Regions from separate parts of the Homo sapiens genome. Here region 2 is linked to region 1. Evidence: fine-mapped expression QTL. A gene starts in region 1. The other region holds a variant in brackets. All regions are shown on one strand. Distances are from middle to middle. Region 1 holds the start of TIMELESS (timeless circadian regulator). Region 2 overlaps TIMELESS (timeless circadian regulator).

Region 1 (16,269 bases):
CTATAGCTAAAAACATTTTGCAACCCCTGAAAAGAACCCCAAATACAAGAATGAAGTAGAATAATAGCAAAGGGGGGAACAAGTGAACAAGAAAAAAAGAGGAAGATGAACTGGAGTGTGTCCTGGCATCACCCGGGAGGGTTAGACCCCAGAAATCCCCTTATTCCTAGGCAATTCTCCAAAGTCACCTTCCTTGGCAGATTTCTTTTCTTTTGTTTTTGTTTTTATTTTGTTTTGTTTTTTAAGACAGAGTCTCACTCTGTGGTCCAGGCTGGAGTGCAGTAGTGCAATCATGGCCCACTGCAGCCTCAACCTCCACAGGCTCAGTGAACCACGCTAAGGCCTGGTTATTTTATGGTGTTGTTTTGAGACAGGGTTTCACTCTGTTGCCCAGGCTGGAGTGCAGTGGCACCATCACAGCTCACCGCCTCAGCCTTCCAAGTAACTGGGACCACAGGTGCATCCCACTTCTGAAGGGAGACACAGCCTTTTTTTGTTTTTTGTTTTTTGTTTTGAGATGAAGTCTTGCTCTGTCGCCCAAGCTAGAGTGCAGTGGTGCAATCTCGGCTCACTGCAAGCTCCGCCTCCCTGGTTCACGCCATTCTCCTGCCTCAGCCTACCGAGGAGCTGGGACTACAGGCGCCTGCCACCACGCCCGGCTAATTTTTTGTATTTTTAGTAGAGACGGGGTTTCACCGTGTTAGCCAGGATGGTCTCGATCTCCTGACCTCGTGATCCGCTCGCCTCGGCCTCCCAAGGGCTGGTATTACAGGCGTGAGCCACTGCGCCTGGATTGTATTTGTTTTTTGTTGTTTTTTTGTTAAAAAGGCTAGGCTAAGGCTGGGTGAGGTGCCTCACGCCTGTAATCCCAGCACTTTGGGAGGCCAAGGCAGGCAGATTGCTTGAGCCCAAGAGTTCAAGATAAGCTTGGGTCACACGGCAAAACCCCATCTCTACAAAAAATACAAACATTAGCTAGGTGTGATGGTGCATGCCTGTAGTCCCAGCTATTTGGGAGGCTGAGGTGGTGGGAGGATTGTTTGAGCCTGGGAGATTGCGTCACTACACCCCAGCCTGGAGTCTCACCTTTTTTGAGACAGAGCAAGACCCCGTCTCAAAAAAAAAAAAAAAAAAAAAAAAAAAAAAGGCCAGGTTCTATGGTTATGCTTGTAATCCCAGCACTTTGGGAGGCTGAGGTGGTAGAATCGGTAGGTTGGCTTGAAGCCAGGAGTTTGAGACCAGCCTGGGCAACGCAGTAACACCTCATCTCTACAAAAAATTTTTAAATAAGCTGGGTGCAGTGGCACGTGCCTGTAGTCTCAGCTACTCAGGGGGCTTAGGTGGGAGGATTGCATGAGCCCAGAAGTTTAAGACTGCAATGACCTTTGATAGCGCCACTGCACTCCAGCCTGGGCAACACAGTGAGACTATGTCTGTAAAAAAAATAAAAATAAAAGGCTAGGCTAGTAGAAAACAATAAGCATACTAATTGTATGTAAATCTATGCAAAAACTCAAGTAAGCTTTTAAGAGTTCATCTCTAGTTAGGTTTGAAAGAGGCTGGCATTTATCTAAGTGGGGAGACTGATGTCAAAGGAAATGGGCCGAGGTTTAGTTCTCCATGGAATTCTTGTCAATGTTTGATGAAGAATAGAGGCAAGAGGATGGTAGCTGCAGATAAGGAAAGCTAGCCATTTTATTTGTCGTCTATAAGAGATTGAATTAACTGCCCTTTGCTGTTCCATCTCTTATTATAAGAGGCTACAGGATTAGTGGGTAGAGATAACCCATTCCTGTTAATAAAACCCCATTGAGTGGCTTCTGTTTACTTTTTAAATTTTTTAATTATAATTTTTTTTTTTGAGACGGAGTCTCACTCTGTCTCCCAGGCTGGAGTGCAGTGGTGTGATCTCAGCTCACCACAGCCTCCACTTCCTGGGTTCAAGTGATTCTCTTGCCTCAGCCTCCCAAGTAGCTGGGATGACAGGTGAACACCATGACGCCTGGCTAATTTTTTTGTGTATTTTTAGTAGAGATGGGGTTTTGCCATGTTGGCTAGGCTGGTCTTGAATTCCCAACCTCAGATGATCCGCCCACCTCAGCTTCCCAAAGTGCTGGGATTACAGGTGTAAGCCACCGCACCCAGCCAAATTTTCAATTTTTTTTGAGACAGGGCCTGACTCTGTCACCAAGGCTGGAGTGCAGTGGTGCCATCTCAGTCCACTGCAACCTCTACCTCCCAGGCTCAAGTCATCCTCCCACCTCAGCCTCCCCAGTAGCTGGGACTACAGGTGTGTGCCATTGTGCCTGGCTAATTTTTGTATTTTTTGTACAGGAGGGGTTTTGCCATATTGCCCACGCTGCTCTCTGACTCCTGAGCTCAAACGATCCTCCTACCTCAGCCTCCTGATTTGCTGGGACTACAGGTGCAGGTAGCTCCTGTTTTTAAGTGCTTTATTCTGTGCCAGACACTGTACTAGTCTCTTTACCTACATTATCTTATTTGATACAGAGGAAACTGAGACTCAGAAAGCTTATGCTAATCTGGCCAGGTGCAGTGACTCAGGCTTGTAATCCCAGCACTTTGGGAAGCCTCGGCAGGCGGATCACTTGAGGCCAGGAGTTCGAGATCAGCCTGGCCAACGTGGTGAAACCCTGTCTCTACTAAAAATACAAAAATTAGACAGGTGTGGTGGCGTGCACCTGTAATGCCAGCTATTTGGGAGGCTTGAACCCAGGAGGTGGAGGTTGCAGTGAGCTGAGATGGCACCACTGCACTCCAGAGTGAGAGACTCTGTCTCAAAAAAAAAAAAAAAAAAGCAAGCAAGCTTATGCTAATCTAATCTATTCGGCAAATATTTATTTACTGCCTTCTGTGTGTTAAGCACCAGGTTCGCACTGGTGAAAAATCAGACATGGGCCCTGCCCTCCTGGAACCTATATATAGCGGGGATAACTTGCCCAACTAGAAAGTGGTAAAGCATATATTGTTGTCACTGCTGTTTTTAATTAATTTGGGGTACACAGAATATTTTGTTGTTCATGATATCCTCTCCTCATTGGCCTATATATATGGCTCCCACTTATTTGTTTTTAATAATGATAATTAAGCATCATTTCTAACCATCCATCCAATAGAAAAACTAGAACCTTGACAATTACTATTATTTTATTTTATTTTATTTTATTTTTGAGACTGAGTTTCGCTCTTGTTGCCCAGGCTGGAGTGCAGTGGCACAATCTTGGCTCACTGCAACCTCCACCTCCCGGGTTCAAGCGATTCTCCTGTCTCAGCCTCCCGAGTAGCTGGGATTACAGGCACCCACCACCATGCCCGACTAATTATTGTATTTTTAGTAGAGATGGGGTTTCACCATGTTGGCCAGGCTGGTCTCCAACTCCTGACCTCAGGTGATCCGCCTGCCTCAGCCTCCCAAAGTGCTGGGATTACAGGCATGAGCCATTGCCCCCAGCCAACAATTACATAAAGTTACACGATGTGCTACCCAAGTTTCTCGTGGGTATATAAGTGAGAAGTGGAGTTGCTGAGTCAGAAATTATGTAATTTGACCTGGCATGGTGGCTCACACCTGTAATCCCAGCACTTTGGGAGGCTGAGAGGGGCAGATCACTTAAGGTCAGGAGTTTGAGACCAGAGTGGCCAACATGGTAAAACCCCGTTTCTACTAAAAATACAAAAATTAGCTGGGCATGGTGGTGGGCACCTATAGTCCCAGCTACTTGGGAGGCTGAGACATAAAAATTGCAGAGGTTGCAGTGAGCTGATTGTGCCACTGCACTCCAGCCTGGGCAACAGAGTGAGACTCTGTCTCAAAGAAAAAAAAAAGAAATTATGTAATTTGTTCATCTTTATAAGTAGGTGTTAAACTGTGTCCCAAAGTCATTATCTCAGGTGGGGAACAGTGCCTCACGCCTGTAATCTCAACACTTTGGGAGGCTGAGGTGACAGGATCACTTGAGCCCAGGAGTTTGAGGCCAGATTAGGCAACACAGTGAGACCCCATCTCTACAAAAAATAAAAAAGTTAGCTGAGCATGGTGGTAAACACCTGTAGTCCCAGCTATTTGGGAGGCTGGGGTAGGAGGATCGCTTGAGCCCAGGAGGTTGAAAATGCAATGAGCTGTGATTGCACCACTCGACTCCAGCATGGGTGACAGGGTGAAACCCTGTCTAAAAAAAAAAAAAAAAAAAAGTAATATCTCAGTTTATACTCCCACCAGCAGTTGTAACTGGTTCTTTTTTTTTTTTTTGAGACGGAGTTTCGCTCTTGTTGCCCAGGCTAGAGTACAATGGCGTGATCTCGGCTCACCACAACCTCTGCCTCCCGGGTTCCAACGATTCTCCTGCCTCAACCTCCCGAGTAGCTGGGATTACAGGTACCCACCACCATGGCCAGCTAATTTTTCGTATTTTTAGTAGAGACGGGGTTTCATTATGTTGGTCAGGCTGGTCTCGAACTCCTGACCTCAGGTGATCCACCCGCGTTGGCCTCCCAAAGTGCTGAGATTACAGGCGTGAGCCACCGCACCCAGCTGGTTCTGTCACTTTTTATCCTCACCTAATTGGACCAGAGTATCTGTGGCCAAAATCTCTGCTCTTAACACCATGATGTGCTACCCTCTCTCTTTATCCTGTCCAGGGGAACTTTTCTGGAGGCAGTGTGAACCCTGCATGCTTCCTGAGGCCAGCAGTGGTGACTGGGATCTGGGAGCATTACTGGGTGAGATGCACTGAGGGTTACAGGGCCTTAAGTCAGGAGACTGATGAGGCTTCTAGAATATAGGAGATTCCAATGACTTCTAGTGGACTGTTTCTCTTCTATGTAATTGAGAGCTCCAAACCCTTTGGGTGCTCTCTGACCTGTTCTCAGCAACTCTTCCTGCCAGTGGATAGGTTAGATGGACCCTCTACCTTCACTATAACTCTCTTTCTGTCCATCCCCAAGCTGGGTATTATGAGGAGAAAGCACAGCCCCTGATCTGTGTTCCTTCTCTCTCCCCACAGGTGTACTGGGTAGGACCCATGCTGGGCACCATTCTTGCAGGCCTCACCTCGAATTTCTGCTCTCTGGTGCTTCATGAGAAAAGTTTGTGGCCGGTATGACTTGCCACTATGTGGAGATGGTAGAACCTATCAGTATGTCCCATTCTACCTTCTCCATCACCACACAACCCCACGCCTAGGTCCCAAGTCCCTCACCAAGCCCGAGCACAACTGAACCTCTTTCCCCAAACTTTCCTTCCCCATATTATCCTTTTCCCTCTCTTTGATCGGCTGTTTCCCCAGATCTGATCCCAGCACACCCATACCTTTCCCTGGGGATCAAGGCTTAGGGTGTGCTGATCATGGCTGTATTAAAGGACATTAGACCTTCCCATTGCTTCATAGCCATGACTGTTTCCTTCCTTTCAGTACTTCTTGCTATGACCATGTGAGTTAGGAAAGATGAAATACAAGCTGATTCTAAGGTTTAACTACGAGTCCCTTTCTTATTCCTATCCCTCCAACCCCACTCCCAGCCCATGCAGGGATGATAGTGTCTTCTCTCTGTCGGTCCCTGTAGTTTAAAAAGCCAGGCCTAGGGTTTGAAAAGGGAGGTGCTGTCATGGACTGGGGGTAGGGAACCCGGGCTCAGAGAAAGCCAGACGCAGCAGAACTATTTTGTCCCAGAGCTGCAGGGTCCACAGATTCCAGCCCAAACTAGCCAATGGGAGAAAGGCTTCTAATCCCTGGGAACTAAAGAATTCTCTTTAGTTATCCAACTTCCCTGCTGAACCCCACTCCTTACCACTCCCCCCAACCCTTACCCCTGGCAGACTCAGAGGAGGCTGAGGCCCCCAGGAGCTCAGCCCCAAATGCCATGAAGTGAGCTCAGCTTGATGGACCTTCCAAAGAGAGCTGAAGAGTATTCTAATGTTGATGTCAATCAGGACAATGAACCCCAATTTTGACACACACAGAAGGGCAGACTCTTCCAGTCCTGCTGTTCTTCACCCCCACTTCTCGTAGTCTCTCTTGCTGTGACCCCAATCCCACCCTCACTGCCATGGCTCTCTCGGCTCATCTCCCAGTTGAGAAAGGCGGGAAAATCCAGCATTTTTACCATGTAGGGGAGGGGACTTAGCCCTCCACAGCTGTGAAGGGGTTAAGAGGCTGGGCCTGCTACCTCAGCCTGCCCCTCCCAGGGATTAAGAGTCCTCTATAAAGGGGACTGTCCACCCAGACAAGGCCATGGGGGTAGCAGGGACCCAGGCACTGTGACCATCCCCCCTGCCATGTGGGAACTGCGATCAGCCTCCTTTTGGAGGGCCATATTCGCTGAGTTCTTTGCCACCCTCTTCTATGTCTTCTTTGGGCTGGGGTCCTCACTGCGCTGGGCTCCTGGACCCCTGCATGTTCTGCAGGTGGCTATGGCATTTGGCTTGGCCCTGGCTACACTGGTGCAGTCTGTGGGCCACATCAGTGGAGCCCACGTCAATCCTGCAGTCACTTTTGCTTTCCTTGTGGGCTCCCAGATGTCCCTGCTCCGTGCCTTCTGCTATATGGCAGCCCAGCTCCTGGGAGCTGTGGCTGGGGCCGCTGTGCTGTATAGCGTTACCCCACCTGCTGTCCGAGGAAACCTAGCACTCAACACGGTAATGGTTGGCTGAGAGGGGATGGGGAACCTGGTGTCCTGTCTCTCTATTGCCCTGACTCCCTGACTGGTGCAGGTGAATCAGCTCCCCTGGGGTCTGGGACAATATGTGCATGTGTGAGCATGTGTGTGTTGAAGTGGTGAGGATTGACAGGTGGTTTAGAGCTTTAAGGAAGGCATAGGGCCCTGGACTGAGAATTAAGAAACCTGAGTTTGAGTTTCAGCTTTCCTTCCAACTCCTTGCAGGTTCTTAAGGAAACTTATTTTACCTTTCAAGGCCTCAGTTTCCTCATACATGTAAGTGGCTGCAATCATTTCCATCATGAAGGAGCACTGTTAGGAGATGGTAAGATGCAAATACAATGATTATGAAGGGGGTTGTATTATCCTTCCTCTCCACGGACCTGATGCCGTAACGAGATCCTTGCCGGGGAAGTCTTGAGGAGGTAACACTGTGGCAGCCCTCCTGAGCTGTCTCTCTTCTTCTTCCTTTGCACAGTTGCACCCTGCGGTGAGCGTGGGCCAGGCAACCACAGTGGAGATCTTCCTGACGCTCCAGTTCGTGCTCTGCATCTTTGCCACATACGACGAGAGGCGGAATGGCCAACTGGGCTCCGTGGCCCTGGCCGTTGGCTTCTCCCTTGCCCTGGGGCACCTCTTTGGGGTAAGCAGGAAGGAGAGCAACTTCTCATTCAAGGATTCCGGGGCCCCTAAACCTTTCCCAACTTTTAAGGGTTCTTCCTGCCTACTTCACTGTCAAACATGAACATTGTCCATTGCACTCTCTACTGGCACAAAGGAATCAACTCTGCCCTATCCCTCTCTTGTGACTGCTATATCTAGTCCTTCTTGACCCCAAGGTAGAAATGAACGTATCATGGCTAGACATGGGCTTTGCCTATGGATCCATAGTCTGTTCCCAGACAGGGCATCAGTTGCCCTCACCCCATTGCAGGAACCCCTGGAGAGTCATGCAGGCTGTCCCTCTCCACTTGCTGCTGGCTGGAGAAAAGATGGCAGCTCTCAGGGGCAATGTGGGTTGTGGGGAGAGAAGCTGGGGTGCAGTAGGGGGGTGTCTCAGTTACAACTGTCTCTTTTGCAGATGTATTATACTGGTGCAGGCATGAATCCTGCCCGCTCCTTTGCTCCTGCCATTCTCACTGGGAACTTCACTAACCACTGGGTGAGTGAAGGGAGAGGGGCAAGATCCTGAAGCCCTTCTGGATGGTTGTGGACTGCAGGTTCCAGGCTGGATTCCTGCTTTCCTTCTGCGTGTGTTGGCTGCTGTACCAGCACTCAGCTAAGGGGGCTGTCAGAGAGTTTGGCATGCCTGTGTGAGCAGGATTCATGATTTTGCTAGAAGGAGAGGCTCTTGCTCATATTTTTCCTTCTCTGGTTAGTCAGGGAGTATGCACTGAGTATTCACTGGTTGCTGAACTAGCGGGTATGAAGAGAGACAACTAAATATGAGCAGAATAAATTCTGCTCTCAGAGATCAAGATGTGTTGTGAGCACAGATGGGCCTCAGCCCCATTCCAGTTCTAATACGTTATCGGCTTTGTGTGTGACCATGGGCAAATAATCACTCTGTGCTTCAGTTTGTTTTACTATAAAATGGGACATTACGAGAAATGTGTGAAAGTTATATGTGAGAAACATTTAGCACAGAATCTGATATAAAGTAAGCACTCAATAAATATTGGTTATGTTGATGTTGTGCAAGCCAAACATATGGAAATAATTTAAAAATTTTTCAAAGCTGTACACCCATTTTCATAACAGCATTATTCACAATAGCCAAGAGGTAAAAGCAACCCAAGTGTTCCTCAGTGGATGAATGGATAAACAAAATGTGGTATATACATAAATGGAATATTACCTGTAAAAAGGAAGGAAATTGTGACACATACCACAACATGGATGAATCTTGAGGACATTATGCTAAGTGAATAAGCCAGTCACAAAAAGACAAATACTGTATGATTACATTTATATGGGGTATTTAGAGTACTCAAATTCACAGACGCAAAGTAGAAGGATAGTTACCAGGGGCTGATGGGGGTGGGGTGGAATAGGCAGTTGTTTAATGGGTATAGAGTTACAGCTTTGCAAGATGAAAAAGTTCTAGACATAGGTTGCACAACAATGTGAATATACTTAACACTACTAAACTGTACACTTAAAAACATATATATATTTTTTTGAGATGGAGTCTCCCTCTGTCACCCAGGCTGGAGTGCAGTGGAGCTTGATCTCAGGATCTCAGCTCACTGCAACCTCCGCCTCCTGGGTTCAAGCAATTCTCCTGCCTCAGCCTCCTGAGTAGCTGGGATTTCAGGCGCCTGCCACCACGCCCAGCTACTTTTTGTATTTTTAGTAGAGATGGGGTTTCTCCCTGTTGGTCAGGCTGTTCTCAAATGGCTGACCTTGTGATCCGCCCGTCTTGTGATCCGCCCGTCTCAGCCTCCCAAAGTGCTGGGATTACAGGCATAAGCCACTGCGCCTGTCCAAAAATATTTAATATGGTAAATTTTATATGTGTTTTACCACAATGTATAAAATTTTTTTGAAAGCAACATACAAACTAGTGCAAATTGATAACAAATAGAATATACACATGCTAAGGTGTGGGATAAAGGAGTAATTTGATGAATCAGAAAATAAATGGTGAGTTTATTGTAGATATCAAGTGTACAATATCTTGTTTTCCACTAAGGTGGCTGGAAAAAGAGCAGCGTTGCTACTCTGTCCCCTCCCCAAGCCTGAGTATTCCTTTTCTCTTTCTACAGGTGTACTGGGTAGGCCCAATCATTGGAGGGGGTCTGGGCAGCCTCCTGTACGACTTTCTTCTCTTCCCCCGGCTCAAGAGTATTTCTGAGAGACTGTCTGTCCTCAAGGGTGCCAAACCCGATGTCTCCAATGGACAACCAGAGGTCACAGGGGAACCTGTTGAACTGAACACCCAGGCCCTGTAGAAGCTCCAGCTGAATAGAGGGAGTAGAAAGCTTCTGAGTTTACGTGGAGGGGTTTAGCCAGCCCCTAGATGAAGAAAGAGACTGTGGGGAGGGTCATGTACTTCTTTATTTTTTAACTTATGTATGTGGTTGTTTTTTTTTTTTTTTTCCTTTTGCTGTGTGAAATCTTTCAAGTTGCATTCATGAGCTGGTTGGTGCAAACTTCCCTTCCTCCCCATCCCACCACCCTTCGCCGTGTGTGCTGATTGTGCATATGAATGTGAGTGTGGCTGTGTCTGAGTTTTGGGGCATGAGAGCTAAGGAAGCAAAAAGAGGTGCCATCCTATACCTCCCTTCCTCGACCCAGTATGGTGAGTACTGGGTAACCGACACCTTAAGTTTCTGGCCTTTACCCTGCTGCCAGTCAAGTGTGTGGCTCTTGATTTCTGAGGGAACAGAGAAGCAGGGAGTTACTCCTCACACGAGGCAGATGGAGAGAAGTGGAGGAGACAAGGCTTCCAAGGGTTAGGAGAAGGGACTCAAGGGAGGTGGGTGGTGAAAACGGAGTATTAGCCCCAGATCAGGATGTAGGTGTACCGAAGAATTGGGGGGAAGTTAATGGGAATATATAGCCTACTTATCTTAGGGATGCTTGCCCCAGGGACTTGGGTGGGGAAGTAGCTCTGAGAAAAGTGAACACTAGGATTTAGCTGTTCTGTAAAGCCACGTAAACCTGTCTACATCCGCTGGCTGGTTGTGTTCATTCTGACATAATGGATCTCTTCAGAGGTCCTGGGCCAAAGAGCTTCCAACCTAAATAGAGCTTGGGCAAGCCTAGAATCTAGAAAAATTAAGCAGCTTAACTGGTCAGCCTGACATCCACTGTTGTGGCTGCCTGGCAGATGGTATTTAAGCCCCACAATTGTTCCCTAAGGCCAACACAGGAAATCTGATTCCTGGAGCAAATAAATGAACGGGTGGTAGTAGGGGGCATGAGGGGAGAGGCTTTGACTCTGTTCTAATTTATTTAGAGCAAATCAAAACACTCCTCAAATGGCATCTTTCTGCTTTTATCACTAGTTCCGTGTTTTTTTTCTTGTTTTGTGTCTGTGTATTTTCATTTCTCTGTCATCCGTCCTTTCATCTTGAAGCAAATCTCTTCTAACTCCCTCATACCCCAGAAATTGATTCCTTCTATTCAAATGCTTAATAATTCAGGAGATTATTATTTGTTTGAGCCCTATCTTCTTTTTTTTTTTGAGAGGGGGTCTTACTATGTTGACCAGGTTGGAGTGCAATGGATATTCACAGGCACGATCATCGCACACTACAGTCTAGAAATCCTGGGCTCAAGCGATCTTCCTGCTTCAGCCTCCCCAGTAGCTGGGATTACAGGGGGCCAGAGCACAGCCCTATTTTCTTTTCCTTTTGGCAAGATCATCTCAGCAGAGGCCAGAAGAGACCCTCAACTGTTCAATGAATATTTACGGTTGCTTTCTTCCTTTTATGAGCCTCTTGCATACTTTGAAAGCTTTAAATTTATACCTATAATACAACGGACATCCCCTATCCCAGAAGACCATTCCTCCCTGTACTTCAGCTCTTTACTTCCTCCCAAATAAAACCTAACTTTTCTAACTAACTATTTAAGACTTGGAATAGTCCGCTTGACTAGAAGAAGGGGAAGAATGTTTGTAAATTCACCTCTAATCGGACTTTGATTCTACTATAATTCAGCAGAAAATTCATAGCGCTGTGATTTTTAGATCGACCTCACATAAAACAGTCCCTGCACTCGCTTCCCTTTTCCTTCCTTCTTCACCAATCTCCGCCCCAGTTCGCTCGGAGTCACGTGGACCAGCCCGGCTCGCCCCGCCTCGCTCTTCGCGCAGGCGGGGACCGGTCCAGCTGAGCCTGGTGGCGGAAAGGCTGCGGCCCCGCGCCAGAGGGCCGGTGGCTCCTCCGGGCTTCTGAGGACCCGCAGGGAGCGGGTGAGTGAGTGTGTGGCGAGAGGGCGCTAAGCGGACACGGGGATCCTTTCGAAGCTATGGGGGCATTCTCGGGAAACGCTGAGTCCCTTTTCCCGCCACCCGGTTTAGAGCCAGGGGGCGGGGCTCGTGCTGCAGGCGCGCACGCGCAATTCTGTACTCTGCTCCTTAGTCTCCCGCGCCGCGTTCCCGGGTCTCACCGGACGCGGGCTTAGCCCTACGCTGCTCCGCACAGCTTGGGTCTCCCGCGGGATGGGGTTGTGATGGAAAGGGGCTTGGAATTCCTGAATTAGAACAGAAAGTGCCTGAGGGAGTTCCACTTCGGAGCTTAGCATCTAGTTGAGACCTCCTGAAAAAAACCGGTGTGTGGCCTGGCGGTCAGCAGTGGTCGGAATTCACAGGCCGCTTTACTTATATCGTGGGTTTTATGGAACGGATTTCTCACTCCCTCCCTTCGTTGCCTTGTTCGGGTTTGTCACCTGGACCTCAGCCGCTAATGAAGCTTTTTTCCTTGAGCCTCTCAATTCTTTGCCATTCGTGCTTCGACTAGTACTTTCAATTTTTTATTTATTTTATTTTATTTTGAGACGGAGTCTCGTTCTGTCGCCCAGGATGGAGTGCAGTGGCGCCATCTCGGCTCACTGCAACCTCCGCCTCCCGGGTTCAAGCGATTCTCTTGCCTCAGCTTCCTGAGTAGCTGGGATTACAGGCGCGCGCCACCATGCCCGGCTAATTTTTGTATTTTTTTTAGTAGAGATGGGGGTTTCACCTTATTGGTCAGGATGATCTCAAACTCCTGACTTCGTGATCCGCCCGCCTCGGCCTCCCAAAGTGCTGGGATTATAGGCGTGAGCCACCGCGCCTGGCCTGTTTGTTTTTTTTGGTTGTTTTGTTTTGTTTTGTTTTTGAGATGGAGTCTGGCTCTGTCGCCCAGGCTGGAGTGCAGTGGTCCGATCTCGGCTCACTGCAACCTCCGCCTCCCCAGTTCAAGCGATTCTCCTGCCTCAGCCTCCCCAGGAGCTGGGATTACAGCTGCCCGCCACCACGCCCGGCTAATTTTTGTATTTTTAGTAGAGATGGGGTTTCACCATGTTGGCCAGGCCGGTCTCGAACTCCTGACCTCAAATGATCCGCCCGCGTCGGCCTCCCACAGTGCTGGGATTACGGGTGTGAGCCACCACACCCGGCCCTACTAGTACTTTGTACAAAGTAAAGGTAGATCATCTGATGTTAAATTTAAAACTCCTCTTTGACCACCCACAGTTAGCCTTAAATCCGTAGGTGGGTGTCTGTGGCCTCTCAGTCTGGCCCTGACCCTCTCAATCTCATTTTGTAAATCTCTTACGCACCTGACTCCTGGCCACGTGGAAAGATTGTGGCTGCCCTCTTTCATATCTCAGTACTTAGTTCCTGCTGTTCCTTCTGCTTGGAAGATCTTGACACTGCTCTGCCAAGCGAACTTCTCTTTGAAGACTGAGCTTAATTGTCCCTCTGAAAATCAATGTATCCAGCTTCCTATGCCAAGTTAGTCACTTCTTCCTGTGTGTCCCTGAAGTTTTTTACCCCCCTCTATTACCAGGGGCACTGATACAGCTCAATAAAAGATCAATAAAAGGTTACTGAGCTCCTAACATGTACCATGCACTGTGCTTAGCGCCAGGCTTACAGAGATGAGTAGGATGGAGAGTTCCCGACCCTTAAGGAACTCAAGTCCTAAGGAAAACACATGTAATTGAGTCTTCTGTGGTTACAGTGAAAGGGTCATCAAGAAGTCCTTCCTGGCTTCCTTCCTCCTCTCACTGCACTCACACCATCTTACATCCTGATGCCTCCAAATCTTTAGCTCCAAACTCTTCTCCCTCATCTTCCAGACTTCTCTGTTTCAGTTCAATTTAGTAAAGCATTTATTGAGCACTTACATTGTGCTGCGTAATGATGATTCCTGATGTGAAAGAGTTTACGTTTTCGTGCAGTTAACATAGGATAGTTAGAATCACCTGAGGAACATTGTCAAAACACTTGCCTAAGCCCCATCGCTGGAAATTCTGATCCTGTAGCAAGGCTCTGAAAGTTCAAGGGTGAATAAGAATTCCTATCTCTACTAAAAAAAAAAAAAAAAAAAAAAAAAAACAAAAATTAGCTGGGTATGGTGGCATTTTCCTGTAATCCCAGCTACTTGGGAGGCTGAGGCAGGAGAATCACTTGAACCCGGGAGGCGGAGGTTGCAGTGAGCCGAGATTGCACCATTGCATTCCAGCCTGAGTGACAGAGTGAGACTCGTCTCCAAAAAAAAAAAAAATAAAAAGAATTCCTGTCCTCAGGGAATCTAAGGCTAATGGAGGGAGATAGACTTTGATTTTAACTATTATATACAACATGAATTGTAAGTACCATGTTGGAAGTCTGAATATGGTACACAGTAGACATTAAGGAAAAGGAGGTCACTTCTGTATGGAGAAGTCAGGAGGAAGTCCCTTTTGGGCAGTCTTTTTTTTTTTTTTTGAGATGGAGTTTTGCTCTTATTGTCCAGGCTGGAGTGCAGTGGCGTGGTCTCCCAGGTTCAAGCGATTCTCCTGGCTCAGCCTCCCAAGTAGCTGGAATTACAGGCACCCACCACCACACCTGGCTAATTTTTTTTATTTTTAGTAGAGACAGGGTTTCACCATGTTGGCCAGGCTGGTCTTGAAGTCCTGACCTCAGGCGATCCATCCGCCTCAGCCACCCAAAGTGCTGGGATTACAGGCATGAGCCACTGCGCCTGGCCTGCACAGAGTCTTCAGAGCTAAGCTGATATTTGGATGGGAGGCCATTCTAGATAGAGTAGTGGCTTGAGAGAGAAGCGTGAGAGGTAAACAGGAGAGAGATTCATGAAAGACTTTGTATTGTAGGCACTGGAGGTCACTGAAACTTTAGTTTTGTATAGTAATGCATGCTAATAGTAAAGAATTCAAATAGTACCAAAGGGAAAGACAAATATTTCTCCTATCCTAGATCCCCTAGTTCTCAGAGACGATCACTATGAAGTTTCTTATGTATCCATTGAAGTGTTCTAAGCAGGATTGTTATATGCCTAAATCAGGTAACCATATTGAGGCTAGATTGAACAAGACTGGAGGCAGCTGCATTCATGCCTGTAATCCCAGCACTTTGGGAGCCCAGGTGGGTGGGTCGCTTGAGCCCAGGAGTTAAAGACCAGCCCGGGCAACATGACAAAACCTTGTCTCTAGAAAAAATACAAAAATTAGCAGGGTGTGGTGATGTACCCTATAGTCCCAGCTATTTGGGAGGCTGAGGTGGGAAAGTCACTTGAGCCTGGGAGGTTGAGGCTGCCGGGAGCTGTGATTGCACCACTGCACTCCAGTCTGGGTGACAAAGTGAGACCCTCTTTCAAAAAAGAAAAAAAGTCTGGAGGCAGAGAAAGAGGATAGGAAGAGGTTGAGTAACCTAAGCAAGAGCTACTCAGGAACTGAACTAAGGCAGTAGCAATTGGGATAGAAGGATAGACAGCAACTGATAGAAGAACTTAAGGAAGTTAAGTGAGATGGAGCTAAGGTGACTCCTAGGTTTCTTTTTTTTTTTTTTGAGACAGAGTTTCGCTCTTGTTGCCCAGGCTGGAGTGCAGTGGTGCGATCTCAGCTCACTGCAACCTCCGCCTCAAGCGATTCTCCTGCCTCAGCCTCCTGAGTAGCTGGGATTACAGGCATGCACCACTACACCCAGCTAATTTTGTATTTTTAGTAGAGACAGGGTTTCTCCATGTTGGTCAGGCTAGTCTTGAACTCCCGACCTCAGGTGATCCACCCGCCTCGGCCTCCCAAAGTGCTGGGATTACAGGCATGAGCCACCACATCCAGCCTCTTTTTTTTTTTTTTTTTTTTTTTTTTTTTTTTGACGTGGAGTTTCGCTCTTGTTTCCCAGGCTGGAGTGCAATGGTGCGATCTCGGCTCACCGCAACCTCCACCTCCTGGGTTCAAACAATTCTGCCTCAGCCTCCCAAGTAGCTGGGATTACAGGCATGCACCACCACACCCAGCTAATTTTGTATTTTTAGTAGAGATGGGGTTTCTCCATGTTGGTCAGGCTGGTCTCAAACTCCCAACCTCAGGTGATCCACCCACCTCAGCCTCCCAAAGTGCTGGGATTACAGGCATGAGCCACTGCGCCTGGCCCTAGGTTTCTTTTAATAAGGTGAAACTCTTAGCCTTCTTCACTGAGGAGATAGTGTCAGTCCTTGAGAGAGCCAAAGTGGAGACAGACTTGGGAAGATGAGTTCAGCTTTAGACCTATTGAGTGTAAGGTATCTTTGAGACATAAAGGTAGAGAATGCTATTCAGTTAGTCAGTTTAACATACGAGATTGTCAACTCAATAGCTCAGAGGGGCCAGAAATACAGATTTGCTGGCTTCTGGCTTGGGTGGTAGTTGAAGTGCATGGGAGAGGGTGAGTTTGCCCAATCAGGCCGCGTACAGTGAGAAGGGAAGAAGGCTAAAGATGCAGGCCTAAGGAAAATCAGCACTTAAGTAGGAGGAGGAACAGCCAATAAGAGATCAAAGGGGAAAGTTTTATTTTATGTTGGATTTTTCCCCCCTTAAGATGAGCTAGGACAGGTGTGGGGGCACATGCCTGTAATCCCAGCACTTTGGGAGGCTGCGGTCGGAGGATAGCTTGAGCCT
Region 2 (16,269 bases), 42 kb after region 1:
TTATTGCTTTGCCACGGCACTCTAGCCTGGGCAACAGAGTGAGACTCTGCCTCAAAAAGAAAAAAAAAAAAATCCTGTGATACTACAGTACATTTGTTCTTTTTCCCATTGGATTGTGAGTTATTTGATAGCAAGGATCATACCTGATTCACCTTTACATCCCCAGGATTTATTTATTTATTTATTTATTCAATTGACAACTATAGCCAGGTGTAGTGGCTCATGCCTGTAATCCCAGCACTTTGGGAGGCTGAGGTGGGAGGATCGTTTGAGACTGGCCTGGGCAACACAGCAAGACCCTGTCTCTACAAAAAATTTTAAGTAGTTGGGCATCATGGTGGCATGCACCCCTGTGGTCCTGGCTACTTGAGAGGCTGAGGCAGGAGGATAGCTTGATCCCAAGAGATCGAGACTACAGTGGACCATGATTGTGCCACTGCACTTCAGCCTGAGTGACAGAGGCAGACCCCTTCTCATTTAAAAAAAAAAAAAAAAAAAGAACAACCAAAAAAACCTATAACTGGGAACCTCCTAATGTAGCAGGCACTGTGCTAGGCACTGGGTATATATTAGATAGTAAGTATTATAATAAATAGAGTTCACAACCCTTGTGGATCTTCACCAATATTGGGTCATATATATTCAATGAATATCATACTCTGGGAAACAAAAAGCTGGTCCTTTCCCTTTTCAACTTTTTGGCCCCTGTAGGAAACCTTCTGGCGAATTCCAGCCAAGCTGAGTCCTACCCAGCTCCGGAGGGCAGCAGCTTCTTTGAGTCAACCAGAGGAGGAACAGAAGCTGCAGCCAGAGCTGCAGCCTAAAGTCCCTGGAGAGCAAGGCTCTGATGAGGAGCACTGTAAAGAGCACCGAGCACAAGCCCTGAGGGCCCTCTTGCTAGCCCACAAGAAGAAAGCGGGCCTGGCATCCCCAGAGGGTAATAGTGCGACAGCCATCTTCTGAGTATTAACGTGTCAGCCATGTTGGTCTAGAGGGCAGGAAAGGTGTTCTGAGAATATGAGGACCGAGTTCCTAATTTTGTGTCATTTATGGTCATTGCAGAGGAAGACGCTGTTGGTAAAGAGCCGCTGAAGGCAGCACCCAAGAAACGACAATTGCTGGACAGCGACGAGGAACAGGAAGAAGATGAGGGCAGGAACAGAGGTAGGGAATTTGATGGGACCTTCTTTTTCTTCTCTAATCCTGAAGACAAACTCTACCACGTCCTTACCCCTTAACATATTTAGATATTCTCTCTCTCTCTCACCCCCATCGTTCCCACAGCACCAGAGTTGGGAGCTCCAGGAATCCAAAAGAAGAAACGATACCAGATTGAGGATGATGAGGATGACTGAAGAGCTAAGAAGCCTAGGGGTAGAGATAGACACGTTTTTAGATGGTGCATTCAAGTCAGAGTTGGAAGGGTCATACAGGACCCAGAAGCTCCTCTTACTGGACAGAGCAGTAGAATCCCAGGCTCTTTCACGGATTTAGGCTGAGAAACTTCAGCAGCAGTATTGGACTTCTCTGCTGTCAGTCTTTGTTTCTCCCAGTTTTTATCGGTATGCCCCAGCAGCTCTCTGGAGATTTAGTTCTCTTCTTCTAGGAACCATTTCTTTTGGTTATTGGAGCTCCTTAGCAAATAAGAGGAGTGAGTGAAATAGAGAAAGCACCCCGGACCCCTTTTATTGGTCTGTTCCTTTGGCTTTCTCTTGGAGGTGGGTCGCAGCACCAGATGGGGAGCTTTATGACATGACAGGCGGGAGTTTTGTACCACTTTTAGAAGATACCAGATGCCTCTGTCCTCATTTTGTTTCCTATGATCATCCTCTAGATACCAGATAGAGGCCCATTCCTGCATTTGAGATAGGGTTGGAATATAGTACTCTAGATGATGAATGTGTTTGCTTTGTGTTTGGTATTAAACATGTAAGATTAGAAGTTCTCATCTCAGTCTGACTTGGCGATATGTCTAAGTTCCCCAGCCCTTCCCCTGCTGTGCTCTTGAAAGAAGAACTTAACAATTTTAGGGTAAAAAGAGACCAACAGACCGGCACAGTGGCTCAAACCTGTTGTCCTAGCACTTTGGGAGGCTGAGGCGGGCGGATCACCTGAGGTCAGGAGTTTGAGACCGGCCTGGACAATATGGCGAAATCCCATCTCCACTAAAAATACAAAAATTAGCCGGCCATGGTGGCATGCGCCTGTAATCCCAGCCACTCGGGTGGCTGAGGCAGGAGAATTGCCTGAACCCAGGAGGCAGAGGTTGCAGTGAGCTAAGGTCACGCCAGTGCATATGCCTGGGCGACAGAGCAAGACTCTGTCTCAAAAAAAAAGAAAAAAAAAAAAGACCAACAACCTTCCCTTTTCTTCCGCTTTCCCTACAGAAGACACAGAAAAGCATTTTTGCCTCTAGATCCTTTTGTCTAGGGTAAATTCTTAGGGTGACAAGAGTATGCGGCAGGAAGAAGGAGGAGCCATAAAGGAAGAGAAGCCAGCTTGTTGGCATGGGGCATAGAAAAGGACAAAATCTAGGCATGAAAAGGATGGATAAATACTGCAAATATTATGTTCTTACCCATTCTTGGAAACGTCAGCTTTCTTGCTTCCTGTGCTTCCAGCCGAGGTAGGGCAAAGGTGAGATTGAGAAAATAGCCATTCAGCTCAGGAAGGCTTCTAAGTAAAGGATGGATTTGGATTGCCCTGTTGCTTTGACTTTTCATTTTTATTTTTTCCTGAAAAGATGAGGATCTCCCATAGCCTCTAAAAGTGGGAGTGAAGCTATTTCCATGGTAATTGAAGTTTCCAAGGGCTAGACACTTTCTAGCTCTGGCCAGTCTTGGTGTCTCTTCATCCTGAGCTTTTCTTCACTTCGCAACCTGAGCACTGCTTCCTTCCAGCAGGGCTGCTCTGTTTTCCCTCCATGATCCGGGCTGTGCTGCTCCTTTGCTGTGTCCTGCTGTCCCCAGTATCTGCCTTTTTTTTTTTTTTTTTTTTTGGAGACGAAGTCTCGCTCTGTCACCCAGGCTGGAGTGTGGCAGCATGATCTCGGCTCGCTGCAGCCTCTGCCTGCCAGGTTCAAGTGATTCTCTTGCCTCGGCTTCCCAAGTAGCTGAAATTACAGGTACGAGCCACCACGCCCCGCAAATTTTTTGTATTTTTAGTAGAGACAGGATTTCACCACGTTGGCCAGGCTGGTCTTGAACTCCTGACCGAAGGTGATCCGCCTGCCTTGGCCTCCCAAAGTGCTGGGATTACAAGCGTGAGCCACCGTGCTCGGCCTAGCAGCTGCCTTTTTTTTTTTTTTTTTTCTTTTTTGTGATGGAATCTCACTCTGTCACCCGGGCTGGAGTGCAGTGGCGCAGTATCAGTTCACTGCAACCTCTGGCTCCTGGGTTCAAACAATTCTCCTGCCTCAGCCTCCTGAGTAGCTGGGATTACAAGCATGCACCACCACACCTGGCTAATTTTTGTATTTTTAGTAAAGATGGGGGTTCATCATGTTGACCAGGCTGGTCTGGAACTCCTGACCTCAAATGATCCTCCCACCTCAGCCTCCCAAAGTGCTTGAGCCACCGCATGAGCCGGTGGCGTGATTACAGGCATGAGCCACCGCATCCGGCCGTGGCTGCCTTTCTAAGAAATGTCCAGAACTGGACCCTGACTTTCCATCCCTCTTTGAAATTTCCAGCTCCAGTTTCTTCTAGCAGTGTTTATCAGTATAGAAAATTTACTATGTATTGGCCGGGCATGGTGGCTCACACCTGTAATCCCAGCACTTTGGGAGGCCGAGATGGGAGAATGACAAGGTCAGGAGATCGAGACACTGGCTAACACGGTGAAACCCCATCTCTACTAAAAATATAAAAAATAGCCAGGCATGGTGGCGGGCACCTGTAGCCCAGCTACTCAGGAGACTGAGGCAGGAGAATGGCGTGAACCCAAGAGGCAGAGGTTGCAGTGAGCTGAGATCGCACCACTGCACTCCAGCCTGGGTGACAGAGCGAGACTCCGTCTCAAAAAAAGAAAAAAAAAAAAGAAAATTTACTATTTATTAGGCACAAGAGGTATTTTTGTCCTTTTCCGTTTATTTACCCTTTGGAAATTTTTAAATGAGAAGAGGAGTAAAAAGCTATTTCTTACATATTTGAATCACAGCCGTCTGATTTCTCCTTATTCTGGGTCTCTTGGATTAAGCTGGGAATGTGGGAGCAAGAGGTAGATACTGCTTTTGCGGCATTTCTGACACCTAAACAAGCTCTGATTAGTCAGTACATATCAATTCAGGTATAGATTGGGAGAACCTATAGATCACGATGACAGTCACACATGTATGAAAGGGAGAAAGAGAAAAATTACAGTGCTACTCAGAAAATCTTGGCCAAGTTGATACAGAGCCCCAGAATGAAGATTACATGACTGAGGAGTCCCATGTCTGGCCGACTTGGCTGGGCTCTAGCACTGTCCACCTGTCATTGTCTCAGAGCAGCCTGTAGAGAGGGATGCTGCTGTGATCACTGCAGAACATTCTAAAGAGTGGAAGCTGTCGGCCAAATAGAATGTTCACTCTGTGTTCTCTTGAAGGGAGATCTGAGCAGAACACCACAGGGCAAATAGGCAAATGTTTGCCAAAATTGTGCCCTTACTGACCTTAGAGACAAGCAACTGTCCCCTCTCATGAGACAGAGAACTGGGACTGGAATAACCTACCTGGGAAAGCCCACCTCTCACTGACTACCCTCTGGTAATTTGGTGCTCTCAAATATTTAAGTAGAAAGTGAAGCAGAGGAAGGCCCTGGTGACCAGGGAATAGGAGAAGTCAAATAAGATCAGTGCGGTACCATTTCCTATGTAACTGGGCTTTAACCTAAAATGAACACAAGCCTGGAGGTAATGGGTGAGTGAAACGGTCTGTTTTCTAACTCCCACTTCAGCTGATCATTTACTGCTACATGTTGCACACACTCTGGCTGCCATTTCATATGGAACCCAAACTAAGGCCCTGATGTCCCTTGCTT[C/T]GTATTTGCAGAGCCCTGGTTCTGCCAGACCTGGCTTCCAAAGTTCCTGCCTGGTGTCTTCCATATGTCCTCTCTACCCAGGATCTAGTAGGCCCGGCACTAAGGAAAGCCCTGGAGCAGGCTGACTCCTAAACTTGATGCCAGGCCCTGAAGATTTGGCTATACAGGGTGGGATGTGTGAAAGCCACATAGTCCCATACACACCAGCTCCAAGGATTCTGGAATTTCAGTGGCATAAGGAGGAGCATGCCAGGTGATACCATGGCCTCTGTTCTGCAGGTGTTAAGACGGGCTTCAATCAGACCCAGGAAAAGCCAGATGTGTCTTTCCCACTGAGTACTGTGAGCAGGGGCAGGAATATCCTGAGCACAATGTGTTCCAGTTTTTGCCAGGAGTGGGAACCTACTCCTGGCAGTGGCAGCCCATCTGGAGTGGTCACTGCAAAGACGCCAGCTGCGGCTGGGGAGGTGTGGTGAGGGCTGCATGCTCCACAGAACCAGGGAGAGCCAGGAACAGGCAGGAGCCCCGCCCCCTTTCAAGTTGGCGGGTCCCCACCCTCCTGGGTGCAGCTACAGCAGCACAGCCACAGCTGTGGATCCAGGCATCCCTATGCTCTTAGGGGCCTACGAAGCCTCACTGCCCCCGCAGACTCAGAAGTGCATGCTCCCACTGCCTAGCCTCTTCCCACTCTGTTTTTAGAGCAAAGTTGAGGCCAAGCCCAGCACTGTTGTGACCTGGCCATGTGTGCACACCCTCCTGGCGGTGCTGACACACCAGCCCCCTGCCACCTTGGCCCCCTCTAAACTTTGTACACTGACAAGCATGGGAGAGGGGCTGAGGGGGAGCCAAGGGTGACTTGGCAGGGGTCTGCAAGTGCCCCTCAGCAGGAACAGCTTGGGTCCCGTGGATGACATTATTGATGGTGGCAGAAGGCAGGCTCCTGGGTGGAAAGGTGCAGGTCCAGTGAAGTACCACCTTTAAGCCAGGGACAGCCTGAAGCCTGGGTGCCGGACTGTCACTTCTGGGTGGAGTCCATCGCCCAGAATGAGAACTCATGATGCTTATTCTGGGCCATCCATGGCCCAATCAGCATGCACTTCCTCCCTTCTGAAGCCCATGAAAACCTTGGACTCAGCCACTCACAGAGACATTGAATCGACCTGCATGTGGAAAGGAGCTACTCACTGCCAGTCTCCTGAGGGCTGCTGTGTCGCTCAATGAAGCTCCTCTCTGCCCTGCCCTCCAGTTGTCTGTGTACCTCATTCTTCCTGGATATGGACAAGAACTCAGGACCCAAGGAATGGTGGAACTGAAAGAGCTGTAACACAAACAGGGCTGAAACACGCCTGCCGCCCCCCCCCGCCCGGCCCTGTCACTCCACTGCTTGCCACTATGTGGGCGACTAGAAGAAGAGAAGAGCTGTGGCTCTTTGAGAAGCCCAGACCCAGGGGCTCCCAGAGCCAGGGCTATGACACCCTCTTTGGGGCTCTGTGGTTCCTGGTGTCTCCAAGCTCCCAGGTGCCACCGCATTCCCTGGTGCCTGCAGTGGAAGCTGCTTGCAGTATGTCTGGTCCAGCCACAACCTCACATGGAGCCGGTGCCTGGAGCTCCCTGTCTGCTGCAGCCGGCATGCCTGGCTGTGCACAGTGTGGCCAGACCCCATGCTCACACACCCCTTGCTGCTGCACATCTGGTTCACCCATGGCAGGCATGGAATCCAGGCCAGTAGCACAAGCAGAGCACAGCCTGCCAGGCCAAGTGGGTGGAACAAACACAGTGAGCCCGAGCAACACTTGGGCAAAGGCACCACTGGCCACAGAGGTTTCCAGCTGGAAAAGTGACATCCCAAGAATCCCATGACACTACTATAAACTGGCACAGCTTTGTACTATGCTGCTCAGATAGAACTGGTCAGACAAGGCCAATGGGTCAGAGGTAGTTCTCTCTGCTAGAGGTGAGTCTCGCTGAAGAGCCATAGCTTAGAACCTGGGGCTGGGAGTTTTGTGCTATAAGAAAATTGGATAGGAATAGAAGGGATGAATTCTAATTTTTTGGCAAGCTGTATATGTGGTGTTCAGAATCCAAAATAAACATCACCTGATATCCACAGGATACACAATGATGAAAAATACAATGATTAAAAAACGTGCTGGCCAGATGTGGTGGCTCATGCCAATAATGCCAGTACTTTGAGGGGCTGAGGTGGGAGTATCCCTTTACCCCAGGAGTTTGAGACCAGCCTGGGCAACATAATGGGATCTTGTCTCCACAAAGAATTTCAAACATCAGCCAGACATGTTGGCTGAGGCAGGAGGATCTCTTGAGCCCTGGAGTTTGAGGTTACAGTGAGCTATGATTGTGTCACTGCACTCCAGCCTGAGCAATAGAGCAACACCCTGTCTCTTAACCAAAAAAAAAAAAAAAAAAAAAAAACAATTATTTTAAATGTGTTGAGGTTTCTTCTATGGCCCAGATATGGTATACCTTGGTGAGTGTTCTATAGGTACTTGAGAATGTGCATTCTGCTGTTGGAGTATTCTATAAATGTCAATTAGATGGGTTGATGATATTGTTAAGTTCTTCTATATTCTTGCTGACTTTGTACGTAGTAAGTCTATCAGTTGTTGAAAGAAGCGTGTTAAAGTCACCAACTATAATATTGGATTTATCTATTTTTTTCTTTTAGTTCTGTTATTATTATTTTTAAATAGAGACTGGGTTTCTCTTTGTCACCTAGGCTACAGTGTGGTGATGTGATCATAGCTCACTGCAGCCTCAAACTCCTGGGCTCAAGCTATCCTCCCATCTCAGCCTCCCAAGTAGCAGGACTACAGGCACCCATGCCTGGCTAATTTTTAATTTTTAAATTTTTGTTTATGTTTGTAGAGATGGGATCTCACCATCTTGCTCAGGCTAGTCTTGTACTCCTGGGCTCAAATGATCCTCCTGCCTTAGCCTCCCAAAGTGCTGGTGGTGGCAGAGGCTGCTGCCATCATGCCAACTGTGCAGCTGGGGCTGCAAACTCCATGGAGCCATTGGGAACCCTGTCCCTTCTGAGTTGGGATGGGAGCTCCTGGGGTGCCGCTGCAGCTGCCTAAACTGCAGCTGCAGATCCAGGCCTCCTGCTCTATGAAGCAGGCAGGACCCCCACCCTCCTGGGCTGGGCTACAGCCACCCAAACCGCAGCTGTAGACTGGAGCCTCTCTGTGCTGTTGTGGGAGGGCCAGGAGCAAGCAGGATCTACCTTCCCGGGTGCCGCTGCAGCTACCCTCCCAGGTGCAGGAGCCAGGTGTCTCTTCAGCTTGCACCCTTAGGGGCCCCAGGAAGGACCCTCCCTCATCCTTGCAGGCTCAGGGGTGTCTGCCTGCCCTCTCTCCACTACTGGTGCCCGCTCCAATCTTGGAGCAGGGGTTGGGGCCAAGCCTGGGGGCCATGAATGGCAGCAGGAGAGAGATTGATTCCTGGGCAGAAGGGGGTGGGTCCCCAGTAAGGCCCCCACCTTTGGGCCAGGGAAGACCTGAAGGCTGGGAGCTGGGCTGCCAGTCCCATGGACCAGAGTGGGGACTTGTGATTCCTCTTCCAGGCCTGCTCATGGGCCAATTGGCACACACTTTCTCCCCTCTGAGGTCCATGGGTTCAGCCAGAGCAGGGCACAGGATGGCCAGAGGATAAAGAAGGCAGAGATACCATGGGCCACCCTCTCCAGGGCCTTGTCTCTGCTGAGAGCTGAACACTCCACAGGATGAGCTGTCTACGAAGAGGAGCTACCCACTGTGGGTCTCCTCTGAACTGTTCTTTTTTTTTTTTTTTGACAGTCTCTGTTGCCCAGGCTGCAGTGCAGTAGTGTGATCTCAGCTCCCTGCAACCTCTGCCTCCCAGGTTCAAGCAATTCTCATGCCTCGGCCACCCTAGTAGCTGGGATTACAGGCGTGCGCCACCACTCCCAGCTAATTTTTGTATTATTAGTAGAGTCAGGGTTTCACCATGTTGGCCAGGCTGGTCTCGAACGCCTGACCTCACGTGATCCACCTGCCTCAGCCTCCCAAAGTGCTGGGGTTACAGGCATGAGCCACTGTGCCCGGCCTTCTCTGTGCTGTTCTAACACTAAATACAGCTCTTCATCTTCTTCACCCTTCATTTGTCTGCGCCCCTTGTTTTTCCTGGATTAAGGACAAGAACTCAGGCACCACGGCCACAGAGGTTTGTAGCCAGAAAACATTTACACCCCAGAGATCCCATAATATTTTGGAGGCTTGTCCGGGATTTGCAGAAGGGTGAGTAAAAGCAATTCTGTCCATTTTTTTCAGAGTCTCTAAACTCCACAATAGTAAAAATGAAGGAAAAATACCAGGCCTCTGTCAGCCAGTTAAAAGTAACTAGCACAGCTGCCAGACTTAAGACATGGAGGACAGGCTTGCCGGGGAGGACACTGTCAACCCCCCATCACCCTCGAGTATTGGGAATGTTGGCTTTGTTCCAACCCAGTTTCCCCTCATTGAGGTCTAGCTGTCGCATGGGACTGGAAGGAGGTCCTAGGGTAACAGGGTATCTGGCCGAGGCCATACCTTGGTGTTATCCAAAGGCCCTTGGACTAACTCCAGTCCCCGACTGCCCATTGGGGTGTTGACACTAGGACCTCCAATCTTTTTTATTGTTATTTGTTTATTTCTTGCTTGCTTTCTAGGCTGTCATGGTTCCTATCTCTTTTATATACAATGTTAAATTGTAACACCTGCCCCCACAGCTTCACCTGCCTGTGATAGGGCGGCAACATCCTTAAATGTTAAGGATGTTGTTGCAAACCAGAGAGATTTCTGGATAAAATGAGCATTTGGCTTAGTCATCAAGTATAAAATAGAAGGTTAAGGGTACCACAAAGCAAAGTGTGCCGTCATATCTGTATGTAAATTTGTGGTGAAAATGTTCTTGTAATTTACTTGATTGCCAATTTAGGGCCAAGCACCTTGAGGCACAGAAAAGAAGCATTGCCTCAGGAAAAAAGCTTTTCTGTAAACACGAAGGCAAATAGTCCAAGGTCCTTTATGTGCAGGCCTTTGCCTTGCAGGGTGCCCCAGACCTTTGCCAACATTGTAGAATTGATTCAGCCCTCCTAGGGGCCATCTCAGGAGAGGCTGCAAGGGGCAATCCCAGGGAACTGGAGAAGCAAATCCCAGAGTTACCTCCAGCGGGGGAATCAACTCCCTCCGCACCTCCCTATCCAGGTGCTTTTCCAAGCTTGCCTCATCCTAGAAATAATTTTAGACTGTTCCCAGTCTCACTCCTGCCCCTGCAACAGATGCCTGGTGCATATGGCCCCATTAAGGTCCAGGTCTCCTTTTCTCTTCAGGACTTAAGGCAAATTAAGGGGGATCTTGGCAGGTTTTGAGATGGCCCTGAAAAATATAAAAAGGATTTCCAGGCCGGGCGCGGTGGCTCACGCCTGTAATCCCAGCACTTTGGGAGGCCGAGGCGGGCGGATCACAAGGTCAGGAGATCGAGACCATCCTGGCTAACACGGTGAAACCCCGTCTCTACTAAAAATACAAAAAATTAGCCAGGTGTGGTGGCGGGCGCCTGTAGTCCCAGCTACTCGGGAGGCTGAGGCAGGAGAATGGCGTGAACCCGGGAGGCAGAGCTTGCAGTGAGCCGAGATCGCGCCACTGTACTCCAGCCTGGGTGACAGAGCGAGACTCCGTCTCAAACAAAAAAAAAAAAAGAAACGGATTTCCAGAACTTAACCCAAGTATTTTAGCTCTCCTGGAAGGATGGCCATGTTACTTTTGAATCAAACCCTGAACACTGCTGAAAAGCAGGCCACTCTCGTCAAGTGGCAGAGAATTTTGGGGATGAGCTTTACATCTTGTATAGGGCCAGGGAACAGGAAGAGCCTTTTCCAGTTGGAAGAATACCAGTGCCATTAGAGGACCCTAAATGGGACCCCAGTAATGAAATGGGACAATGGAAGAAGAAATTCTTTCAGGTGTGCATATTGGAGGGCTTGTGAGGGACTGGAACTGAGCCTCTGAATTGCACTGGGCTATCTGTGGTACATCAGGGATTGGATGGGAGTCCCACTGATGTCCTGGAAAGGCTAAGAGGGGTCTTGGTAAAACACACCCCTCTATCTCCTGATTCAATAGAGGGACACCTGGTCATAGGGAATGAGTTTACTACTCAGTCAGCCCCTGATATCAAGAGGAAGCTGCAGAAGCAGGCCATAGGACCAGGTAGTATTTTAGAGGACCTCCTGAAAGCGGCCACCTCGGTCTTTTACTATAGGGATCAGGAGGCCCAAGAGAAGGAAAGGAAACACAAGAAAAAGGCAGAGGCTCTAATAGCCAGCTTGCAGGCTCACAAACCACAGAGCTCCTAAGTTGTACCTGTTGACTGCTACAAATATGGACCATTGGAGGGAGGACTGTTCCCAAGACACCAGTCCCCAGGTACAGGGCTGGTCTCCCAAATGATGCAGCAGAACTGATGGGTCCCGGGGTTCCTTTCCCTGGCTTTGGTAATTTAGACCACCATTACCATCCAGGAGCCCTGGGTGATTCTGGGGATCAAGGGAAGGAGAATGGACTTCCTCCTGGACTCAAGCGGTCCTTTCAGTTCTCCTCTCCAATCTAGGCACCCCCCTCTCTTAGCATGACTGTGAGGTACATCTCAGGAAAAGCCCAACATTTTAGTTGTCACCTTGGGCCAGGTCCCCTATTCCCGAGACTCCCTTTCTCTCCCTTATTTGAGGAGGACCTTCCCCCACAGCTTCACCTGCTTGTGATAGGGAAGCAACAGAGGAGTGCCCCCTGCCAGCTGCTAGCTGCAATTTGGCAAGGGCCATCTGGGACTAATTTAAAGGGTTCATACACTCCTGAGGCATCTTCTTGTCCCAGGCTTTGGTTTGAATCCCTTGAATGGAACACTAGACCTGAGGCAGATGACAGCAGGAGTCAGGGCACAGCACAGGTGAGCATGGCTAATTCCTGCTGATTAGTCCCCCCCACTTCATGGGTGGAGTGCATCCTACATCACTGGACTCCTTTGACCCTCAGACTCTGGAGAAAGAAAAAAGCTTTTTCCCCTTCACAGGACTTCAGGGCCAATAGGGCTCCATGGCTTGGGGGAAGGGAACCCAGAAGCCTGACATGCCAGTAAAAGGGTAAAAGTTGTGGGACTTCTGGCTTCTCTCTCTCCATGCAAACTGGTTGCAGGAATGATATAAATCACTGTATTCTCTACTCCATGGTTCAGTTGGCCTTTTTGGCATGGCTAAGGTTGGGTAGTAAGATATTTAAAAGGGGCCGGGTGCAGTGGCTCACGCCTGTAATCCCAGCACTTTGGGAGGCCAAGGTGGGTGGATCACTTGAGGTCAGGAGTTCAAGACCAGGCTGGCCAACATGGTGAAACTCTGTCTCTACTAAATATACAAAAATTAGCTGTGTGTGGTGGCATGCACCTGTAGTCCCAGCTATCTGGGAGGCTGAGGTATGAGAAACGCTTGAACACAGGAGGCAGAGGTTGCAGTGAGCCCAGATTGCACCACTGCACCCCAGCCTGGGCGACAGAGTGAGACTCTGCCTTAAAAAAGAAAAAAAGATTTAAAAGGACTTCTTTAAAAGGAGCACTATGGTTAAAAGTTAGCTTAACTAAAAGTAGATGTTCATAGATATCCAAGCTTTAGGTATACTTAAAAGGCCTTTATGTCATTTCTCTGTTTTTCTGGTGAAGGGTCTTTTCTTCTCAGTCGACTGAATTATCTTTCTCCATTCTTGTCTTGCCACTCTTGATGCGCACATGAGGAGCCCCAAGATATCCTCTGATGGCCTGGGACTCCTTGGGAAAATGAAAGAGGTGCCACTGACCCATTTTGGGAAAGACTTCTGTTTTCCTCATGGAGCCCCAGGAATTAGGAGCAGATGGATCCCTCTCAAAATGTTTTTGTCTTCCAGTTATGCATACTTATTAGGCCATAGAAACTACATGTTTTCCTGGCCCTGCTTCTTAAAGGGCTTAACCCCAGGGCCAGCAATGCAATTAGGAGATTGGCACATGAAAAATCTTAAAACTACTGGATCTCTGTCTGTTTCTGTGTGGATATATATGTGTCAGGTGTGTCATGTTTATATAAAAGAGCTCTAACTGATTGGCTTAAAGGAAAATAAGTGTTTAAATCAAATATTTCGAAAGAAAAATAAAGCTGTAATGCCTTTTAGTTCATGGCTATCACTCTAGTGGAACAGGAAGCATGAGAAAGTATGGCCTTACACAGCTCATAGTAGGCCGTTGCCTCTGGAGGGAAAACGTAAAGTGGCACTGGTGCCCACCTAAGGTCAGAGTAAGACTGGATCCCAAAGGGGGATGCTCCAGGGGATCCTCTGGACTTCCACCTCTCCAAAGAGGATGCTTTTGGCAGAGGTTCTGAGGTCTACTAATAAGCCCTCCTTAGAACTTTTTCGCAGTTGCAATACTGTTTGGCCCCAGTATTGCATGGAATCTGGAGTTACTGCTGAAAGGGAAAGTGGGATGCCATTGCCTGTATCCAGGCTTTTATGCTGTTGTTCTAAGCAGGGGGCCTGGTTAGCCTGTGATGCTCTCCTTTGGTGCTGTTTGACCCCAGTGTTCTTTGAAGTCTGGGGGAGTTTGGCCTTTAAATATCAAACTGCCATGGAAACTGCTTTACCGGAAATTTTGTTTCACAGTTGTATTAGGGATATATATATACAGCATTTAGGTATTGTTAACTATGCAATAATATTGGGGTTGGTGATTGGTGCATTTCTGGTTGTGGGAAGGATAGTTGTATTATGTTAGGCACAATTATTACCTTATTATTGTCTTTATTCGAAAATTATATATGATCTCAGGAGATGTGTACATATATATGTACATATATGTGTGTATATATATGTGTATATATATATATATGCGTTTACTAATTATTAACTTATATGATCACAAGGTCCCATGATAGGCTGTCTGCAAGCTTGAGGAGCAAGGAGAGCCAGTCCGAGTCTCAAAACTGAAGAACTTGGAGTCCGACGTTTGAGGGCAGGAAGCATCCAGCACAGGAGAAAGATGTAGGCTGGGAGGCTGGGTCCATCTCACGTTTTCACATTTTTCTGCCTGCTTTATATTCACTGACAGCTGATTAGATTGTGCCCACCAAATTAAAGGTGGGTCTGCCTTCCCCAGCCCACTGACTCAAATGTTAATCTTCTTTGTCAACATCCTTGCAGACACACCCAGGATCAATGCTTTGCATCCTTCAATCCAATCAAGTTGACACTCAGTATTAACCATCACAAGTCCACCGCTTGTCAACTTGAACCCATACACATCTCCTAAGATCATACATAATCTTCGAATAAAGCCAATAATAAGGTCATAATTGTGCCTAACATAATACAACTATCCTTCACATAACCAGAAATGCACCAAACCCCAACCCCAATATTATTACGTAAAGTTAACAATACCTAAATGCTGATAGGACAACAATAAATTTTATGTCACATGATAAAGGAAAAGGAAATAAAATGAAGATATTTTCTTAGTACAAGTGTTTACATGCATAAGCGTGTTTTTAACAAAAGGAGAAAATACTCATGACAATTACAGTCCTTGTTTCTGCAACTGGTCACGTGGTCATAGCTGGTATTGATGACTACCTTCTTCTACTACCCATTCTGTATTCCCTTTGCCTTCAGCAAGCACCTCAGCAGGTCATGGTTTTTTTCCTGGTGGAATGACCCAAACCTTTATTCCTGAGGGGTCTGGACTGTTTGTCATCTGCCTGGATTGGGGTATTGTAGTTTCCCATTGACTTTAATCATGGGGCATGGTAATACTAAGAGGTGCCCTAATGGATCTCCTATATTCCATGCATACTCTTTCTTATCTATGTTGTGGAGTAGTAGACTGATTTCATCTTGATAGTGCGGGTCAATCACCGCAGCCAACACTGTAATTCCCTTCTTAGCCTGTTGACTTAAAGGTAGGAGGAGCCCAAAGTGTCCAGTTGACAATCTTAACTTCCAATTTAATGGAATCATTGTGTCTACTGGTGGCAGCATTCCTCCCTCTGGAACTAAGACATGTAGCCAGCAGAACTTAATGTTGCAGGAACAGGAAGCAAAAATTTTGCTAGTGGGTCACTGGGGGTGATGGTGAGTGGTGCCACTTCCACTTCCACCCCCTTGATTCCTGAACCTGTGAATCCTGGCTATGGGAGAAACTAACATATATTGGATGCTGATTCAGAGCGTACATGGCCTTCTGGACAACTTTGCCCCAGCCCTGCAGAATATCGTCACCTAGTTGGTGTTGTAATTATGACTTAAAAAGGCCATTCCTCCATTCTGTCAATCCAGCTGCTTCAGGATGATGGGGAACATGGTAAGACCCATGAATTCCATGAGCATGAGCCCACTGCTGCACTTCTTTAGCTGTAAAGTGAGTGCCTTGGTCAGAGGCAATGCTGTGTGGAATACCATAATGATGGATAAGGCATTCCGTGAGTCCACGGGTGGTAGTCTTGGCAGAAGCATTGCGTGGAGGATGGGTAAACCCATATGCGGAGTAAGTGTCTATTCCAGTGAGGACAAACCTGTGCCCTTTCCATGATGGAAGAGGTCCAATATAATCAACCTGCCACCAGGTAGCTGATCACCCTGAGGAATGGTGTCATATCAAGGGCTCAGTGTTGGTCTCTGCTGCTGGCAAATTGGGCACTCAGCAGTGATCGAACGCAGGTCAGCCTTAATGAGTGGATGTCCATGTTGCTGAGCCCATGTGTAACCTCCATCCCTGCAACCATGGCCAGTTTGTTTATGGACCCATTGGGCAATGACAGGGGTGGCTGGGGAAAGAGGCTGAGTGGTGTCCACAGAACAGGTCATCCTATCCACTTGGTTATTAAAATCCTCCTCTGCTGAGGTCACCCTTTGGTGAACACTCACATGGGATACAAATATCTTCAGTTTTGACCACTCAGAGAGGTCCATCCACATACCTCTTCCAAGTCCCTGACCATCCAGCCAAACCATTGGCTAACAGCCGATGAATCAGTATATAATCGCACATCTAGCCATTTCTCCTGCCATGCAAAGTGCACAACCAGATGCACTGCTCAAAGTTTTGCCCGCTGGGAAGATTCCCCTTCACCGCTGTCCTTCAGGGATGTCCTAGAAAGGGGCTGTAGTACTGCAGCTGTCCACTTTCGGATGGTGCCTGCATACCATGCAGAACCATCTGT

Evidence for each region. PIP is the estimated chance that this variant, and not a neighbour inherited with it, causes the effect.
Region 2: its variant is fine-mapped to the expression of TIMELESS in whole blood (TOPMed, PIP above 0.99).

The regions. Positions count from the first base shown.
Region 1 is chr12:56,444,640-56,460,908 of GRCh38, reverse strand. It overlaps TIMELESS (timeless circadian regulator), which reads left to right and starts at 11,483. Exons shown (of 29, transcript NM_003920.5): 1 at 11,483-11,599. It overlaps MIP (major intrinsic protein of lens fiber), which reads left to right and starts at 6,252. Exons shown (of 4, transcript NM_012064.4): 1 at 6,252-6,655; 2 at 7,154-7,318; 3 at 7,757-7,837; 4 at 9,444-11,407. The coding sequence starts at 6,296. The coding sequence ends at 9,629. RefSeq lists enhancers at 11,740-11,829, 11,940-12,059, 12,082-12,602.
Region 2 is chr12:56,402,802-56,419,070 of GRCh38, reverse strand. It overlaps TIMELESS (timeless circadian regulator), which reads left to right. Exons shown (of 29, transcript NM_003920.5): 27 at 712-937; 28 at 1,063-1,164; 29 at 1,285-2,708. The coding sequence ends at 1,355. Among named protein-coding and RNA genes, the nearest start is that of TIMELESS, 38 kb to the left of the region's middle. The variant C/T (reference allele first, on the strand shown) is at 5,019.